3 linked regions of the Homo sapiens genome follow. The protein of the gene in region 3 interacts with the protein of the main gene of each other region in a pairwise test. Each region holds a gene or a part of one and is shown on either strand. Other genes may lie near its edges.

What was found. Proteins that work in one complex are often made in the same cells at the same time.
Region 1: the proteins of BLMH (region 3) and TNPO3 interact in binary tests that used the Homo sapiens proteins (3 or more experiments, as listed by UniProt).
Region 2: the proteins of BLMH (region 3) and NUDT12 interact in binary tests that used the Homo sapiens proteins (3 or more experiments, as listed by UniProt).

What each region holds. Positions count from the first base shown.
Region 1 is NC_000007.14:128,968,105-128,975,134, forward strand, and holds part of TNPO3 (transportin-3), read right to left. Parts: intron 6,859-7,030; coding exon 6,764-6,858; intron 4,479-6,763; coding exon 4,322-4,478; intron 2,212-4,321; coding exon 2,044-2,211; intron 1-2,043. UniProt on the Homo sapiens protein: Importin, which transports target proteins into the nucleus. Specifically mediates the nuclear import of splicing factor serine/arginine (SR) proteins, such as RBM4, SFRS1 and SFRS2, by recognizing phosphorylated SR domains.
Region 2 is NC_000005.10:103,552,783-103,559,812, reverse strand, and holds part of NUDT12 (NAD-capped RNA hydrolase NUDT12), read left to right. Parts: intron 1-344; coding exon 345-934; intron 935-3,714; coding exon 3,715-3,882; intron 3,883-4,959; coding exon 4,960-5,073; intron 5,074-7,030. UniProt on the Homo sapiens protein: mRNA decapping enzyme that specifically removes the nicotinamide adenine dinucleotide (NAD) cap from a subset of mRNAs by hydrolyzing the diphosphate linkage to produce nicotinamide mononucleotide (NMN) and 5' monophosphate mRNA.
Region 3 is NC_000017.11:30,247,676-30,253,947, forward strand, and holds the end of BLMH (bleomycin hydrolase), read right to left. Parts: intron 4,559-6,272; exon of another isoform or gene 4,399-4,558; intron 2,732-4,398; exon of another isoform or gene 2,112-2,731; intron 1,494-2,111; coding exon 1,342-1,493; 3' UTR 528-1,341; downstream 1-527. UniProt on the Homo sapiens protein: The normal physiological role of BLM hydrolase is unknown, but it catalyzes the inactivation of the antitumor drug BLM (a glycopeptide) by hydrolyzing the carboxamide bond of its B-aminoalaninamide moiety thus protecting normal and malignant cells from BLM toxicity.

The DNA.
Region 1 (7,030 bases), on a different chromosome or scaffold from region 3:
GTAAAGGTTCAGATACCTGAAAGAGCAGGGGCAAAAAGTATACTAAGCCACCATGTCAGAAAGTATACATATGAGACATATGAGTCCAGAATCTTAAGGATTTTAAGGCCATCTCTCTCAGAATAAGTCCTATCCATTCAGTTCCTTTGTGATATCTGCCTGTTCTTTGTGTTAAAAAACCTTGCTCTTGTTGCTGTTTAATTTACTTATATATTTTTTATATAAGTATATCTAAGAATTCTCTTTATGCCTTTTCTATGCACAAAAATTGTCTACTCCCTTTACTTCCTTCCTTTCTAAAATAAAAATTCTACAGACTTCCTCTGGGTTCTTATTTTCAGTTTAATTGTTGTCCTTTGGGTCAGCACTAATATTTCTTCATCCCTTTCTTAAGTGGAATGTATACTTCAGTCATAGTTTTGGGCTGTAAAATTACTCTTTTATACCTAATTTTTTTTACATTATATATTTTCCCATCATATTCATTTATGGCCATAATAGGCCAGAGCAAAAGTATTATAAATGCTCATGAAGTACTAAGCATTTCTTAATTATGGATACATAACAGCTCCTTAATTCTTAAAAATACATAATAGTTGTTATATAGCAAACTTTTTCTTTTTTGAGACAGGGTCTTGCTATGCAGCTCAGACTGGAGTGCAGTGGCATGATCATAGCTCACTGCAGGCTGGAACTCCTGGGCTTAAGCAATCCTCCTACCTCACCCTCCTGAGTAGCTGGGACTATAGATGTATGCCACCACACCCAGCTAATTAAAAAGAAAAAAAATTTTTTTTTTTTTTGTAGGGATGGGGTCTATGTTGCCCAGGCTGGTAGTCTCAAGCTCCTGGCGTCAAGTGATCCTCCTGCCTTGGTCTCCCAAAGTATTGGGAAGACAGGCATGAGCCATTGTGTCTGGCTGATATACAGTACACTCCTTAGAGTACATGGCTACCTGGTTTCTATTCCTGTCCAAACTTCTTGTTCTCATTTTTTGTTGTTGTTGTTCGCACTTAACAATATGCTTACAATCAAGAATGTTTTCATAAAGTTAGATTTACATAAGTTTTCTGTTACTTGGGAACCAAATGTATTTGTAAAAAAGTTTAAGCAGAGTATGAAGACTTTTTCCCTCAGGTCAAGGACTTTTGAATTAAATTTGCTGATTCCTGGAGGCTCAAAAAGTACTTTTCTTTAGAAAAACAAATATGCTACTCTATCAGGTTGAAATGGAACATGTGTATTGAACCAGAGAGGAATAGGTACTATCTGTTATATATTATTATTATCAATTTTATATTCTGTGGTTCTGTAAGACAGCTCACTTTAACTAGGTCCCAATGAGTACTTTCCTGAACTGCTTTTACAGTAATATTAAAAATTATAAATTCCATTTTAAAAATGATTTCAGGTTATATTATACTTTACCATTCTACTCAACTTTCACACAGTACACATAACCTGAGTTATGGTCATGTGGCCCAGTACTGAAATTACTTGGGCATTATTAGATAGCTTTAAAAAAACAACTCCATCCTTAGGTGGGTGATAAAGGATCTGGTTCAAAGAAATCCAAAGGGGAAATATATCCAACTGTACATTGTGGGTTACTTTGACAATTATGTGCTTCCAAATGTTCTGGCTAGATGTATCACCAAGAAATAATACAGTGCTATAGAATAAGTCTGAAAGGATTAAATACTTCTTGAGTAATACGTAACTAATATAACTGACATTTGGGCATCTCTCACAAGTGAACAAATTTCACATTGGACAGCCACACAACTGAATTCAATGCTTGATACTTACTTCTGGTAATATACCCCCTATGACAGTGACATAGAAACATGCTTTAAAGAACTCAATAATAAATTACTGATCTTTACGGGCCTCTTCATCTACCAATCTAATTTGGCAATATGCCTAAATTTGGTTCCATGGACAGAAAACAGGGCTAGTTTCAAAATTAGGGTTGGCCTTAAGGAACCAAAGCCTATTACATTTAGGGACTATGAGATAAATTCCTCATGAAAACAATCTTACCGGTCTGTCAACCTGCATGATCTCCCAGAGCACTTCAGCCACATCTGGTAGGGTATAGGGGGGGAGGCAAAAGCAGCAGGTGTGCAGCAGCTGGCTGACAAGCTGCTGTCCAAGCTGGTTCATCACCTGTCCAATCAGTTCTTTCCGTAATTCAAAGTCTTCTTCATGCTGTATGTAGGAAAGCAGGAACATCAGATAAATTCTAGTCTCAACTTCCCAAAGACCAAGCACTCTTTCCCCTTTAGTAATTTCTCTTTAATAGGAAAGTGTGTGTGTGTGTGCACGCGTGGCTGTGTGTGTGTGTATGCAGGTGTGTGTAAAATGACAGCTGGATTCACAAAGTCCAGAAGTTTTTTGTCTTTAGAAAGAAAATGAAGGAGTTTATTAGTATCCAAGGAATGAACATGGGTTTCAACAGAGATTAATGCTTAGATTTTTCATGATTTGAAGGCAGAAAACATGGTTAAGAATTAAAGTTAGCAATTTTTAAAATTTTTTTCTCTTCATCTTCTATGTGATGGTATTAATTTTTTTTTAATGTGAAAAATAACTTGTGTTCCTATTTCCTTTTTTAAAAACTAAGTCAGCCTGGCATGGCAGCACACACCATAGTCCCAGCCACTCCAAAGGCGCAGGTAGGGGAACAGCTTGAACCCAGTGTTCTGGGCTAGAGCATGCTATACCAATTGGGTGCCTGTACTAAGTTCAGCATCAATGTGGTGACCTCCCAGGAGTGAGGAACCACTCCTGGGTTGCCTAAGGAGGGAGGGGTGAACAGCCCAAGTCAGAAACAGAGTGGGTCAAAATTCCATTCTGATCTGTAGTGGGATCTCGCCTGTGAATGGCCACTACAGTCTGTCTGGGTAACACAGCCGGAACCCCAAGTCACAACAAAACAAAACAAAACAAAACCAACTGAAATTAGAATTGAAGACGTCTATCAGAGATCTAATTTTTTCTATCGAAAAAAAAAAAACCCTTTTTTTCTTCTTGCGGTCTTTAATTTTTTTTTTTCTGAGACAGCGTCTTGCTCTGTCACCCAGGCTGGAGTGCAGTGGCCTGATCTTAGCTAACTGAAACCTCCATCCCCTGGGTTCAAGCAATTCTCCTGCCTCAGCCTCCCTAGAAACTGGGATTACAGGCATACACTACCACACTTGGCTAATTTTTGTATTTTTAGTAGAGACAGGGTTTCACCATGTTGGCCAGGCTGGTCTTGAACTCCTGACCTCAAGTGATCTGCACGCCTTGGCCTCCCAAAGTGCTGGGATTACAGGCGTGAGCCACTGCGCCTGGCCCTTCTTGTGGTCTTTAAATACACATGTATTTCTAATACCTTGAGAAAAATATTTTTTAAATTGCCTTTCCCTTCTAGTTATTTTCTTCTCTCTTTTACTGCCAAACTTCTTAAATGAATAGCCTAAATAGAATGCAGAATACTTACTTCTTCACTGCTCTCCCCTGTCTACAATTCTACTCCACATCTAATCAAACCTACCTTCGAAATTCCTGTGAAGCACTTTACTACTCCCACTGCTTAGTTGTCTACTAACAAACTTAGTACTATTCTGACTTGCTCTGATCTTGGCTTAGAGGCAGTATGACTATCTGCCTCTCTAATCCATCAAAATTCTACCTCTAATTCATGGCTTCATTTAAATCCCTCCCCTTCCATAAAGTTATTCCAACTCTTTTTGGTCTAGAGCTTTCCCTCGTCTGATCTCATACCAATCATGACTTTTATCACTCATCTGACAATCAAATACTGGAGGCCAAGGTGGGAGGATCACTTGAGGCCAGGAGTTCAAGACCAACCTGGGCAACATGGTGAAATGCCATCTCTACAAAAAATATAAAAACTAGCCAGGCATGGTGTTGAATGTCTGTAGTCCTGGCTACTCAGTAGCTGAGGATCCCTTGAGATTCACATCACTGTACTCCAGCCTAGGCGACAGAGCAAGACCCTGTTTCAAAAACAAATGAAAAACACCAAACACTGGCATCTTGTTGTTACTTAACTCTTTAAACTTGTTTCTCTCTTCAACTAGACACCAAATGATTTGGGAGCATGAACAGTTTTAGACTGCTTTATATAGCCTAAAGCACCCAGCACAAGTGTCTTAGTTGATATTTTGGCTAGTGAATGATCCACTATGATATATGTCTACCAATATAGATCAAGTAAGGAAATACTGGGATGCTGGTTTTCTCCTAAGGAATGACAAAGAGATAGGAGATAAAAGCTGTTAAGTAGAAATGGTATCATTTTTATACTTACATCATTGGCTACCCCTGTATGAATGAGGTCTCGTAGAAACCTCATGACACTACAATTGGCATCCCGGTGGTCCAGGGTAGTAGAGGCAATGGCCCACTGTAAGATAGGGATGACCACTTGGCTCCGCAGCAAGGTGACAGGGCTACGCTGAATAAACCTGGTGTGGAAAGTGAGACTAGGTATAAATGACAAGATTAGGCTATAAAAGCAGCCAGGGTAAAAGGGCAAAACTATGAAGACAGTAAAAAAGATCAGTGGTTGGTGGGGGGTTTCAGGGAAGAAGGGATGAATAGACAGAACATAGAGGATTTTTTTTGGCAGTGAAAGTATTCTGTATGATACTATAACAGTGGATACATGTCATTACACATTTGTCAAAACCCACAGAATGTACACCAAGAGTGAAGCCTAATGTAAACTATGGACTTTGGGTGATAATGATGTGTTCATATAGGGTCACTGTTTGTATTACTCTGGTGGGGGATGCTAATAGAGGGGAAGGCTGTGTGTGTTAGGAGGGAGGGGTATATGGGAGCAACTTTTCACTCAAATTTGCAGTGAACCTAAAGTTGCTCTTTAAAAAAAAAGGACCATATCTTAAGATTAGTATATTAAAAGACGTGTCACCACATCCTATTTCCAACTAAGATTTTATAAATCAAGAAAGACCAGTCAAAAGGACCTACAAGTAGAAACTCTCCTAGGTTAAAAAGTCCTAAAGATGCTAGAACAGCATTTCCCAAACTAAAGTTCACAGAATTCCAGTTCCCAGGATGTCAACAGGAATCCCTCAAAGAAAAGGTTGTGTGTTCAGGTAAGCTTGGGAAATGCTGCTGGATTTTGAAAGTAGTTTTGCTTGTTTATTTTTTCCTTTAAACTACTATCAGGTTTCTAAGTTCCTTTAATATACAGGGAGAATCTCTTCAGAAAAAGGTACAGTATACTCCAAACTTGTTTCATCATTTGTATAAAGAACATTTTTAGGGACTAGTTTTCCAAGGAATACATACCCTAAGAAAACAGAGGGTGTGCCGGGCGTGGTGGCTCAGGCCTGTAATCCCAGCACTTTGGGAGGCCGAGGAGGGTGGATCACGAGGTCAGGAGATCGAGACCATCCTGGCTAACACAGTGAAACCCCGTCTCTACTAAAAATACAAAAAATTAGCTGGGTGTGGTGGCGGGTGCCTGTAGTCCCAGCTACTCGGGAGGCTGAGGCAGGAGAATGGCGTGAACCCAGGAGGCAGAGCTTGCAGTGAGCCAAGATCACGCCACTGCACTCCAGCCTGGGCGACAGAGCGAGACTCCGTCTCAAAAAAAAAAAAAAAAAAAAAAAAAAAGAAAACAGAGGGTGACAGCCCATCCAACAATTCTATCAACTGAAAAAAAAAAAAAAAGAAAAGGAAAAAAAAAGGGTTTTTCTAACCTATCCAAAAACTAACAAAAAAAAAGGGTTCAATATTCAATCCTGCCAGGTACGGTGGCTCACGCCTGTAATCCCAGGACTTTGGGAGGCCAAGGTGGGCGGATCACCTGAGGCCAGGAGTTTGAGACCAGCCTGATCAACATGGCAAAACCCCGTCTCTACTAAAAATACAAAAATTAGCTGGGCATGGTGGTGGGCACCTGTAATCCCAACTACTCGGGAGGCTGAGGTAGGAGAATCACTTGAACCCAGGAGGCAGAGGTTGCAGTGAGCCGAGATCATGCCATTGCACTCCAGCCTGGGCAACAGAGTGAGAGTCCATCTCAAAAAAGAAAAAAGAAAAAAAATCAATCCTAAGATGAAACAATCAAGTCAACATTACTTTGCATTTGTAAATGATATAACAGTTGGGCTTTTGTTGTTTCGAAAATAATGATTTTTCTTTTTTTTTTTTTTTTAATGCTGATATGGTAACAGTTTTGGTTCAAATTCCTTAGTTAGGGACTAAGGAATTCAAGCAGAAGTTTGGCAATCATATTATCAGTGCTACTGATAAAGTAGGCTGTGAGTAGAGCTGAGAAATACAGTATGAGATAACTGCTAAGGCATCTTAAAATCCCAAACATTCTTTATTCCGAAACTGATTATATCTAAAGGATGCTAAGCTTCTCAAAGAGAAGGTTGAGGTGAAACATGAAATCGCAACAGCACGAACAGTTAAAACCTACAGAGGACTGTAGAGATGATCTAGTCAAGTGTTTTGCCAGGCACACTGCATTGTCTTGTGTGTGAGCCCTCCTTCCTGGCAGGAACTCAGCTCCTTTATCCCTTGCTTCCCGCAATACTCTGCGTCACTGCTGGGGATATATCAGCTTGCAATTTACCTTTGGGTTATGAATCATTAATCTACTTACTCCAGTGACTTCATTTTACAAGAATAAAACAACCAAGGGTCAGATGGCAAGACTAAGCAGTGATAGGATGAGCAATTAAGAAATGGGCTCTTCAGAAGGATTTACCTGGTGGCTAGCCGGAACAGGTCATCTACAGTGTCAGGGTGATTCTGGAGACCATTCTGCTGTTCTAGGAGCTGAAAGGTGGGGATGCACAGTGCCTAAAACAAAACAGTGATTTTAAAAGAAATGCTTTTTCAGAAATGCCACAGCATTCAGACTTGCCAAATATTTATTACAATAAGTACAAAAGGAACAAAGAAGAAAAGCACAGCTGGGAAAAGAAAAAGATTGTAATGAGAATCTGATCAGGAAAAGAAACACATAAATCCT
Region 2 (7,030 bases), on a different chromosome or scaffold from region 3:
TAAATTTTCCTCCCAAATAGAAAATGCAGATCTCACTATGACTACCAAGGACTTCTTGTAGAATTTTGGTATCTCTTTATAGTGCATAAAGCTTAATACTGTTTTATTTTGTGAGTAATTATCCAGAAAGTGTAAGTATCCACTGTCTCTTAACTTTTTGTCATTTATGATTGTTCTTTTAACCTTCCCAATAGTAAACTATGTAACAAAAGAAAAAAAATCTATGTAATCATTAAAAAGAAGGACTTTAATATGTATCTGGAAATATTTTAGTGAAATAAATACGGAGAAAGTGTTTACTTCCTATTTTACTTTTTCTCCCCAATTTTTTCTTCCATCTATAGGTGTGACAGATCAATTGTCAATAAATCAAGGCAGACTGCACTGGACATTGCTGTATTTTGGGGTTATAAGCATATAGCTAATTTACTAGCTACTGCTAAAGGTGGGAAGAAGCCTTGGTTCCTAACGAATGAAGTGGAAGAATGTGAAAATTATTTTAGCAAAACACTACTGGACCGGAAAAGTGAAAAGAGAAATAATTCTGACTGGCTGCTAGCTAAAGAAAGCCATCCAGCCACAGTTTTTATTCTTTTCTCAGATTTAAATCCCTTGGTTACTCTAGGTGGCAATAAAGAAAGTTTCCAACAGCCAGAAGTTAGGCTTTGTCAGCTGAACTACACAGATATAAAGGATTATTTGGCCCAGCCTGAGAAGATCACCTTGATTTTTCTTGGAGTAGAACTTGAAATAAAAGACAAACTACTTAATTATGCTGGTGAAGTCCCGAGAGAGGAGGAAGATGGATTGGTTGCCTGGTTTGCTCTAGGTATAGATCCTATTGCTGCTGAAGAATTCAAGCAAAGACATGAAAATTGTTACTTTCTTCATCCTCCTATGCCAGCCCTTCTGCAATTGAAAGAAAAAGAAGCTGGTAAGAAATGAATGCTGCTTTTCATTGGTAAAATCTGGTTTTTAGACTTGAGTTGGAGTTGTATGTATTTGCACTTTCCAGGGGCACTCTTTTTCCAGTAAGCAGTGAAATTAGACTGTCTTCATCAGAAACTTCTTAAAGTTCTCACCCTAGGGGACTACTCTCCTGGGCAGTTAGTAGTTCTAATCAGCCCAGACTGATTTCCTGAGAATTAACCCTGGTGCATGATGATCTCATTTGATTCTTCATTGAATAATTCTTAGTTCCTGCTACACGTAGAACATGATGGCAAAGACTTTGACTGTTTTGTTTTGTATTCTGTTGATGGGGCTTTTTATGGCATGGTAAGAAATTGGGGTTTGATTCTAAAGCCATTTAAATGTAACCTAACCTGTGTTTAAAATATTTTTTTAAAAAAGACACTGCACACTGGCTGCATCATAGAGCATAAATTGTACACATGTAAGTAAGTAAGTGTGAAAGTTGGGAGTCTTGTTAAGAGGGAATTGAGTATTACAGGTGCCCAAGTAAGAGATTGCAATGGCTTGAGTTAGAATGGAGGCAGTGGAGATGGAGACAAAGGGAGAATCTGAGGTATTCTCGAGGTAGAAGGGATAGGGCTTGATCTGTAGGTTGAGACCCTTATAAGTGAGAGATGGTGGTAATATGGCATGAATTAAGGTACTGATAGTAGAAATGGAGGAAAGAGGGTATATGCAAGATAAAGTTTGGAGAGAAAATCACTGGTCTTTGCTATTGAATTGGATATGGGATATATAATAATGAAGGAAAAGATTAAGAATGACTGCTAGGCTAGAGACTTTAATAATTTGGTATATAGTGATACCATTTCTCAATAATATAGGATGATGGTTAGAGCAAGGAAAGCAGGACAGACTTGGATTAAAAAAATCAAGAGTTTACTTTTGGGCATACTAAGTTTTAGAAATGGACATTACAATCAGATGTCTGAACTGGAAATACCCATATGGCAGTCATCAACACACAGATACTTAAATCCCAAAAAACTACTGAGATTACTTGGAGAGTTGAGAGGAAGCAAGAAAAACTCAGAATAAGACCTGAATCCCCCTAAATTTAAAGGTAAGCTGCAAGCAGGAGAGCCATCAAAGGAGTTGGAAACAGTGTGGCCATGAGGTAGGAAGAGAGCAAGAGGCCTCAGGGAAACCAAGACAGCAGAGTATTTCCAGGAGGGAGTGGTCAAATGTATTGAATGCTGTTATGAACTTGAGTAAGATGAAGGCAAAGTGGTTTTTTTGTTTTGTTTTGTTTTTTAAAGCATCTTTGTCTTTGGTAATATGAAGCTATTGATGAACTTGACAAGAGAAACGTCAGTGGAGTGAAACGAACAGAAACCAGATTATGGTAGACTGATGAGTTACTGGGAAGTTAGGAATAGGTCACTTGTCAGTGACCACCTTCCCTTAGGTGATAGAGGTCCTTCCAGAGACTGCTTAAATATCTCCTCCTCAAAGTCTGGTGTGGTATGTTTTATTCTCCACACCTGTGGAGAAATCATCAAACTTTTTTAAGAAAATTTATTTTCTTTAGACATATATATATATATATATATATATCATTTTAAGATCAAAAAGATCTGATAAATGAGCTAGTTGCTTGCTTTTTTCCCTTGTAGGAAAACTGAGGCCTTTTAACTCACTTGCTCTATAAGTTTACACAGTTACTTAACTTTTCTGTGACTCAGTTTACTCCTAAAGAAAATGATAATAATAGTATCTATCTTCTTTAGGGTTGCTCTAAACATTAAATAATCTATATAAAATTCCTTGCATGGTGCTTGGCACATTGTAAGTACTCAATAAATGTTAGCTTTTCTTATTGTGATGATTCTGAAATAATGTAAATACCCTAGTGTAAGTTACATATTACAAGGTTACGTAGCAGGCAAAAACGTAATGTTGTCTATTCATTACAACTGTTTTATTTATTTTTCCCAGTTTAAACGATGTTAGAATTTTTGTTATTATTTTGTTCATTTCAAAAATCTGTAGACCAAATAATCTATTTTAGGGAGGGTAACTTTGTCAAGCATTTAACATATAGCATTTCTAGTCTTATTGCCTCAACTGTAATATTTCTGGCCAGGCCATATTAACTTTTTTTGAACTACCAGAGTAAAACCTATAGCTAAAGTGTATATATTTTAAGATTTATCCTATTAGGCATTTTTTGGTAAACAAAGTTAACCATGAATGTAGTAAATGCAGTGTGTTTTATACTGTGTACATGCAGTCTCCAGTTGAAAACAGGTTGTGTTCCACATGGCTTGGACCATCAATGGCATAGTCACCAAGAGAGTGGTGATAGCCTCCTACAGTTTCCTAGTAATATTTCCTTTAGAGTACAAATCTCACTTAAGAACTGACTTTGTGGTATATTTTTATTAAAATCACTATTGTAAAATCACTGTTTGTAAACTTACTCTACACTAGAATCATGAATACCCCAAATTTTAAAATCACCTACAGTAAAAGCCTGATCTAATATAGGATGTAAGATAGATGTCAGTATGTCTATCTTATATGAAAGTTATATTTTATTCAAACAAAAAAATCTAATTTTTGTAATCCAGAAAATTAAATCTTTTACTTTAAAAGAAGAATACGCATTATAAAAATAGAAATACTAAAACCCCTGATCACACAGCTATTCTTATTGTAGCTTGAGAACATTTTACTTATATATTGATTTTAATTTCTTACAGAATTAAAATTTTTGTGCTTTTCTTTTTTTTGAAGGGGTTGTAGCTCAAGCAAGATCTGTTCTTGCCTGGCACAGTCGATACAAGTTTTGCCCAACCTGTGGAAATGCAACTAAAATTGAAGAAGGTGGCTATAAGAGATTATGTTTAAAAGAAGACTGTCCTAGTCTCAATGGCGTCCATAATACCTCATACCCAAGAGTTGGTAAGCCCTTTATTTTATATCTCAGCCACCTGGATCTTGGGGAATAAGATATTTTGGAAAGAGAAAATTTGTGAGGAGCTAAAGAGTTTTCCTTTTTATGGAAAACATGTCTAACCATTAAGAATGTGTTAAAGTGTTACACACTTTCATGATTTTTAAGTAAAAAACATGGTACATCAATAGCCATTTCTTAACTTTGGGTTACTCACTATAATTTGATATGTTATGATACATGATTTCAAAAGCCAACCAATTTGGCTCTACTTAGTGGAGAAAAAGCCCCACTAAGTACAATTTATTGCCTGTTTGAGGCATTACTAAAGCAGTACAGCCTGGCCCTAGCTTTTCATTACTGTTAATGTCTGCCTGTATTCTCTCTTCTAATTGCTGCCTTGAGTCTGCTGTAGATTTGGAAATCTGGTAACCCAGACCTTTAAAACTGTGTGAAAGAAGAATAGATAGGCTCAGCAACACCTGAGGAGGCCTCTGGGGAGAAAAATACATGGCTTAGTGACATCTATTTTTGTTGCTCAAGAGCCTTTTACATTTAATTCCTAGTTCTTGGTCATGATATAGTGAGAAGAATTTGCTGAATTAGTAACTTCTAGAGAGATGAACTGTTATTTAAATTTTATTTAATGACTTTAATCATAGAATCACATTAGCTTTTAAAAACATTTTGTTAAGGGTTAGGATGGAAGAGGGAAATTAACTATTTACCGTGGTAAAATTTGAATTTTCCTTATTTCCATGTATTACCTACTCAAATTTTTTTCTCATTAAAAAGTAATAATACACCTAACATCCATAAGTACAGAATAAATGTTGCTGTTAAGATTGGGGGAAGAAGGACAAAAATGGTCTTCCTTTAGCTTACTGACACTATTCTATACAATTTCCCTGAGATATTCTATTATCAGCTACATTAGGGCAGAAAGAAGCAATCTCTTACAACCAGACAAGAGTTCTATCCCTATAGGAGATATACCTTTATATTATCCTATCAGACAGTGTTTGTACAATGAATCTAAATTCGTTTTTCCTGCCATTCATGTATCTGATTTTTTTTTTCAACAGATCCAGTAGTAATCATGCAAGTTATTCATCCAGATGGGACCAAATGCCTTTTAGGCAGGCAGAAAAGATTTCCCCCAGGCATGTTTACTTGCCTTGCTGGATTTATTGAGCCTGGTAAGCCATTTCTTAATAATTTATATTTAATTTATAATTTTAAAATACAAAGTTTAGGTAACATTTGAGAAATAATCTCTGATAAATTATCATGTTATAAAACTCGGTTATTTTAAGGTATTTTAAAAATGATACAATTTTAATAATATAAACATGTAATTCTCATGTTTTATATGAGAATTATATAAATTACTTTTCCTAGTAATTTGGTCTGCTTTGTTAAAAATTCAGTATTTGCTCTTTGATATGTTGCTCTTGACCCAGGTATCTAGGTTCCACCTCATTTCCTTCTGTACTAGACTCAACTGTTACCTTTTCAAAGAGGCCTTGCTTGATTGCCCCAGATACATTAGTTAGCCCCCATACCCTGCATTCACAATCCCTATCATCCTTCCTGATTTTTCCCTATGGCACTCATCATCACCTAATACCGTATGTAAGTATGTATATATGTACTTACTAATTTATTATCTTATGTTTCAAGAATATAAGTTTCATAAGCACAGGGACTTTATTTTATCCACTGCTGTATCTGAAACCCTCATAGCACATGCCTGTAGCACATGTAGTAGAAAGTCAGTAAATGTTTGTGGAGTGAATGAATACATCTAATTAATATGTTTTATCTCAATTTCAATTTCCAATATTTGCATTGCTAGATAATAACAGTAAACATATAGTATCAGGCTGTGTTTTGGAGGAGGATCATATCATATATATAAAACAGTATCAGGCTATGCTTTATATATATTTTTTGTATGATCCTTATACAACCTTATAAAATACACTATTACAGTGATTTTGCAGGTAGGGGCACTAAGGCATAGGGACTAAATAATTTGCTCAAGATCAAACAGCTAATAAGTGATAAGGAAGGGATTTAAGCCTGGGCATGTTGGTTTCTGAGTTCTTGCTCCAAATCACTATGCTGTCTTTAGTAGTTCTAGGTCATTGTCTTAACTGCTGGGTAGTAATCCATTCATGGATATTCCACTATTTATCCATTCTGCTGATTGGACATTTAGTTTATTTTAAAGTTCTTATTACAAACAGCACTGCAATTAATATTTTTATACTTCTCCTTGTGCACATTTGCAAGAGTTATCTAGGTTATATACATAGAGTAGTACGACCAGCTCATGTGTTATGAGCATCTTAACCTTTTCTGTATGTTGCCAAGTTGTCTCTGAAGTGTTTCTGCCAATTTACACTTCCTCCAGCAGAACATGAAATGTTCCATTATTCCACATCTTCACCAAGTTAGGATTTTCAGACTTTTAAATTTGTCATTCTGAGGAGTGAATGAAATCGTATCTCGTTTTCATTTTCATTTTCTTGCCTATGGAACATCTTTTTTCAAATGTGTATTAGGCATTCAGTTTTCTTTTCTCTGAATTTTAGATGTTTATCTTTTACCTAGTTTTGTTTTCATTGTTTATCCTTTTTTATTCATTTTAAGAATTCTTAAATATGTAGCATATGCTAATCTTTTGTTAGTTATGGTTTTGCAAATACCTTACACTAGTCTATAATTATATTTTTACTATATGTGTTCTTTTGATTATTATAAGTTAATTTTCATGTAGGAAATTTATCAATCTATTTGAAATAGAAAGCTATATTTAAAATATATTTTGCTAAATACAGCAATATTTAGCAAAATGTTTCTAAACTTCCAGATTTTACTTAGAAATGATTTTACTTAGAAACAATTTCCCCTATTCTAATTCTTAATTCCAACAAATTAGAAATATAAAGTACATTTATAGGCATCACTTACCATAGCAGAGTCAGCAGTCATCTAGAGGAAAATAATTGCTTAGAAAAAGTATTAAATTTCATCTTATGTAGTTTGTAATCTTGTAATGACCTGAAAAGAGTTACCTGCAATAATTGTTTGACAACATAATAAAAAAAAGTTTCAGAATTTTAGTGTGAAAGAGCTATTTGTAAAAAT
Region 3 (6,272 bases):
TGGATTTTCGTTTTACCTTTTTTCCAACCCTGTTAAGACTCTTCTACAGTTGCTTTTTGTGTAGCTGACCAACATAACAATCATGTTCTTTATTCTACATTCCTTGATACATTTCAACCCTTCCATACTGATCACTTCCCTTCTGTTGGGGCAAATTCAGTTTTTTTTGTGAAAATGTTTTCTATTTTACCCTTGTTCTTGAAAGGGTGGCCCAATCTCAGTAAGATAACTTACTGACCTATTCTAAGGCTGGGCCCAACAGAGCCTCACTCCCCACCCTTGTAGGGACCCTGGATCTGGGTAGAACATTTATGCGGTAGGGGAACAGTCCTTCTTAAACAGGCGCTTGGAAGCCCTTTGCAGATGCCGGTGAGAATCGGCGGTCTGGGAAAGAGTACACATCTTGCAGAGAAGCTGAAGAGGGAAGCCCTTTTCCTGTTTTTTCACTTTCAAGAACATGAGCCACCTGGCTGCTTTCTTTTGTAGATAAACAAACACTTCTCAGACAGATCACATAAATCAGCTTATTCTCATTTAGCAAAGTTTTTATTCAAAAGCTTCTCAGCACCATCTAGTTATCAGAAAGAATGGATATCACCTTTTCCTGCCCACCCAATCCCCAGTTCCACAGGCAGAAGTTAAACCATTTGGCTAGAGTTCCCCCTAATGATTATGACTGAGACCATGATAAGATTTTGGTTGTTCTCACCCAACTGTCTCTAAGCCTCTACTCAAACCTGACTCAAGCAGAGATGTGCACACCCCACAGTTCAGAACAGGAAGGAATCATGTCAGATCTGATCAACCTCCCATTCTTGGGCTATTAGAGGCACAAGAAATTACCTTGAAAAAATGGAATTCAGTGACTGCCATCTAGGAAAGACAGTGATACTGTCCAGCAGCATGCAGTTCCGAGAGCTCAACTCTTAGGCCACCCTCCCTCCACTCTACTCTAGGAACAAGGAGCATTAGGTCTGTTTTCTCTCCATACACCTCAATCGCTCGTCCTCTCGTCTTATTAAAACACAGACACAGAACCAAACTTTTTGACAGTTAAAGACAAACAATTACATCTAATTAAAATGCTAAGAGATCCTGAGCTGTTAGAGATGAGGAGAGTAGATAGTATGACCTGATCTTCCCCCCTCTTTTTTTTCCTTTAACAGTATTCTGTTTCAGCATAAAGCACACTTTCTGAAGAGGTTCCTGGTGGAGACTGGAAATCTGACTGTGTCCTGTGGCAACACACAGTCCCTTGCATAACTTTGGCTTCAGTCCCTGGATCTGTCCTTTGCAGCTACGTCAGGTTCCATGGAAGGAGGAAAGAGCTGGAGGGCAGTATCACTCAGCCAAAGCTCCCATGGGGTCCCATGCTGGCAGGATAATGGGTTCCTGCTCTAACACAGCTAGCACCTCTTCAGGGACATGCTTCCTGTCCACCACCACTTCGTAGACATACTCAGAGAACCACTCATCTGTCATGCACAGGTAACCTGGAGAAAAGAACAGAAGACTTATGAGTCCAGAGGGCAAGGGACAAAGAGCAGAAACCCTTTTTGTAGGATAAACCTTTTACAAAACTAATATTCATACATATTTTTCAGCTTTCCCATCTGTAATTTCATTTAATCTAAATCTTATTAGCAATTCTGTGAAGCAGATAGGACAGGCATGGCTCTATTTTTAGAAAAATTAGAAAACCGGGTCTTGAGTAACTAGGTGATGTGCCCAGGTCACATGGTGAGGTTCAGAGCTGGGCCTTGGACCTAAGGCTAACACCAGATCCTGTACTGATGCTCTCTTCCTCCGCTGCCTTGGTGATGGTGAGTGATGACCTGTATACTAGTAGGGAGGCAGAAAAACTTCTCATTCATACAGCCACACCTAGGGCATAAATCTCTAGGGTCAGAAGGGCAAGCATCCCAGTTCCTTTCTTACCCTACCAGTGTCAATGGCTGTTCTCCCCCATTCCTTTCTATCACACACTCCTACAACAACCAGGCGGGCTGCTGTGAGCATTCTGATGGGGCCAAGTCATCATTCCTAGGTATGCACTTATTTGCAGATGATAGTGTGGGAGTCAAATGATAAAACAGTCCTTGTTTTCCTAGGAGGAAATCTACGATGACGATCAGGCGGAACTAGAAGACTCAGACATCTGCTTAACCTGCTCTCCTTAGGAAGGCCTCTCCAGTGGGTTAGGACTATACAGAGGTGCCCCGGCACTAATGCCCCATTTAAGGTTGAAAGCTCAGCTGAGAGAAAAAGTGTGGTGTCATCGGGTACCCATCCTAGTAATAGTTGCCTTCCATAAGGAGGATTAACCTGCATCTCAGGCTCCACTAGGCCAACACAAATTCCCCTTCAGAAACCAGATCCTCATCTCTCACCTTACACAAAAATCAACTCAAGATGGTCAAAGGCTGAAAGCTAAAACCTGAAACCAATACAAGTTCTAGAAGATAACATCGGAAAAACTCTTCCAGACATTGGCTTAGGCAAAGAATTCATGACTAAGACCCCAAAAGCAAATGCAACAAAAACATAAATAAATGGGACCTAATTAAACTAAAAGGCTTCTGCACAGCAAGAGAAATAGCAGTGTAAACAGACAACCCACAGAGTGGGAGAAAATCTTCGCAAACTATGATTCCGACAAAGGACTAACACCCAGAGTCTACAAGGAACTCAAACAATCGGCAAGAAACAAACAAACAAACAAAAAACCAAATAATCCCATCAAAAAATGGGCAAAGGACATGAATAGACAATCTGAAAAAGAAGATACACAGCCAACAAACATGAAAAAATGCTCAACATCACTAATTATCAGAGAAATGCAAATTAAAACCACAATGTGATACCACCTTACTCCTGCAAGAATGGCCATAATTAAAAAGCAAAAAAATTACAGATGTTGGTGTGGATGTGGTGAAAAGGGAACACTTTTACAATGCTGGTGGGAATATAAACTAGTACAACCACTAAGGAAAACGGTATGGAGATTCCTTAAAGAACTAACGATCTACCATTCGATCCAGCAATCCCTCTACTGGGTATCTACCCAAAGGAAAAGAGGTCACTAAATGAAAAAGACACATGCACACGCATGCTTATAGCAGCACAATTCACAACTACAAAAACATGGAACCAACCTAAGTGCCCATCAACCAACGAGTGGATAAAGAAAATGTGATATTTATACATCATGGAATATTATACTCGGCCATAAAAAGGAAAAAAATAATGTATTTTGTAGCAACTTCGATGGAGCTGGAGGCCATGATTCTAAATGAAGTAACTCAGGAATGGAAAACCAAATATCATATGTTCTCACTTATATAAGTTGGAGCTAAACTATGAGGATGCAAAGGCATAAGAATGATATAATGGACTTTGGGCACTCAGGATGGAAGAGTGGGAGGGGTGGAGGGATAAAACAAAGACAACATACCAGTGTACACTGCTTAGGTGCTGGGTGCACCAAAGTCCCAGAAATCACCACTAAAGAACTTATCCATGTAACCAAAACCCACCTGTTCCCCAAAAACTACTGAAAGTTAAAAAAACAAAAACAAACAAATCTGTTCTTTCAGGAACAGATCTCCAAAAAACTTAAATGGGAAAAAAATGCTTTACCCGAGCCATTGCTAATAAGAAGAGCAAAATTAAAGTGAGAGACTGAAGTCCGTATATTTAAAACAAGAATGGGCTGCTGGGCCACAGACAGAACACAGAGCAAACGATGTGTACTGAATCAAGAGAAAGGCAGGCACACACATCCAAGGGCTCCCGGACTAGCAATGGCCATCAGCACCACGACTGTCATCTGACCGTATCTGCTACTTGTTTTATAGTAAACACTGGAGCCATTTTTCTCTGAAAGTTTGTATAAACCTAGGCCTGTGCTATACCATTTCCCACTACACAGGACCAAGAGAACGGAGAAGTAGGTGTTTCTAGCAAGAGGGTCCCCTAGTGAGCAGTTCTCATAAACCTAGGCCTGTGCTATACCATTTCCCACTACACAGGACCAAGAGAACGGAGAAGTAGGTGTTTCTAGCAAGAGGGTCCCCTAGTGAGCAGTTCTCAAGCCTCTTGGCCTCAAGCCCTGCCCTTTACATTCTTAAAATTATTAGGGACCGAAAACATTCTTTATGTGGACTAATATCTATCATTATTTACTATATCAGAAACTAAAACAGAAAGTTAAAAATATTAATTCATTTAAAAATAAGTATGAAAAATGAATATAAACAATATATTTTGAGGAAAAAAATTATATTATGTAAAAAAATATTTTTAGTTAAAAAAGTGGCATTGTTTTACATTTTAATGTCTAGATTTGCAGAAGACAGCTGAATTCCTGTATCTGCATCTGTGTTTAATCTGTTGCAGTATGTTGTTCTGCTTGAAGCAGATGAAGGAAATCCAGCCTCACACAGATATGTTGCTCAAGGGCAGACCCTGCACACTCCCTGAAAGGGCCCTAGGGAACCAAAGATCACACTTTGAGAACTGCTGCTCTTGAGGCAAGACTGGATTAAATTTAAAGGCAACAATACTGGTAAGTCTAATTTTGTATGCTAAAAGGTGTGACAAAGGGCATTATTTAACCTGAAAACACAATTGATTTGGTGAAGTCATCTATGCCCAATCCTGTTTTTCACCCGACAGAAGTCAAAGACAGATCATCCTGACGTGGCATAGCATACGTTTACCCTCAAAAACACTGTGGAGGCCAGGTGCAGTGGCTCACACCTATAATTTCAGCACTTTAGGAGGCCGAGGCAGGTGGATTGCTTGAGCCCAGTTGTTCAAGACCAGCCTGGGCAACATGGCGAAACCCCATCCTCACAAAAAAAAAAAAAAAAAAAAAAAAAATTAGCTGGTGTGGTGGCCTGAGCCTGTGGTTTCAGTGAGCCAAGATCACACCACTGCACTCTAGCCTAAACAGAGTGAGACCCTGTCTTGGGGGTGGGAATGGTAGGGGTTGGGAGTGCTCTGTAAAAGTGTTCAAGTGCTCCGACCAAGGCAGGTAAAGGAATGCACTCTTGTCTCCTGATAAGCTGGCCTCCTGGATCCAGGGCCCCTACTTTCAATAGACGAGAGACGGAAGGACAGTACAGGCCCACTCTGTAGCTACTTCTGGCTTGTCTTGATTATATATTCCAAACTTCCTGGCTTTGTTGGTGTCAGGACCTGGCCCTTAATTAACATCACCCACACCAGTGCCACCAGGTTCTAGCAACAAAAGTTCTGTCCGCTCAAAGGTCAACCAGTGCGTATTATTTAAAACTAAAATACTGCATCCTAAGTGAGTGCTTCCTGAAAAACTAAGCATCTGCCTTCCCAAAAAGGAGCTTTCAGCAAGCAGGAGAGCAGACTAGGGAACACCACACTGTTTGAGACATTAGTCGTCCCTTCCCTCACCACAATGCAGGCTGAATAAATCACTGCAGTGGCCCTGGGCAGTTAGGCAGGTGAAGGATAGAAGCAGATTCATGTAATAAAATTCTGTGTCCTTTCAACAATACTATCACCATACAATCAAATGAATCTTCAAAGAATGCTCCCAGAAGATGGACAATAAGTACATCTACACTATCTTGTTCCAAAAGCATATCAGATTAAGTCCTCACAAATTAAAATTCCTATCAATTGTAACCCACCCTTTCAATGTCCCTGCCAAGAGGACCCGCCTTGATTAGTCTCTCTCTTCAGGATATGAGTTCTTTGGGGACCCACAAAAACCTCACAGTCTAGGTAGCTGCCAAGTAATTGCGCCCTATGTAGATAATGAACTTGTGGCTGCCGTAACTGTTGACACTGTGTGTCTTGGAGTTTGACTGAGAAGATTAGGATCAGTGTGTCTGAAACCTGTGTAGGAAGCAGCAAAGCACCGGCTCAGGCAGGATTCGGCTGGCCCTTTTGACTTGCGGGAAGGTGCAGCTCCTAACCCTTAGACACACTGGCCGTGAGACACAAGCATTCCAAGGAAAAAAGAAAAGAAAACAAAATAAAAACCTGCTCCAGGGATCCCAAGGTTACACTGAGTGAAACACAGACAAATAGATAAAGTCAGCTTTAGGAACTAAGGTGAAATTAAATTTTGTTTAAACTTTAATGTCTTGTTTACATGCGATGAGAAAGAAAGAAAAGTGAACAGTCCTCAAAACAAAACACCTCAAACCAACCAACCAACCAAAAAACACTGGCAACGTTTCTGTATTTTGTAACAGAAAGGGTAGGGTCAGTCTGTAAAGGGAAAA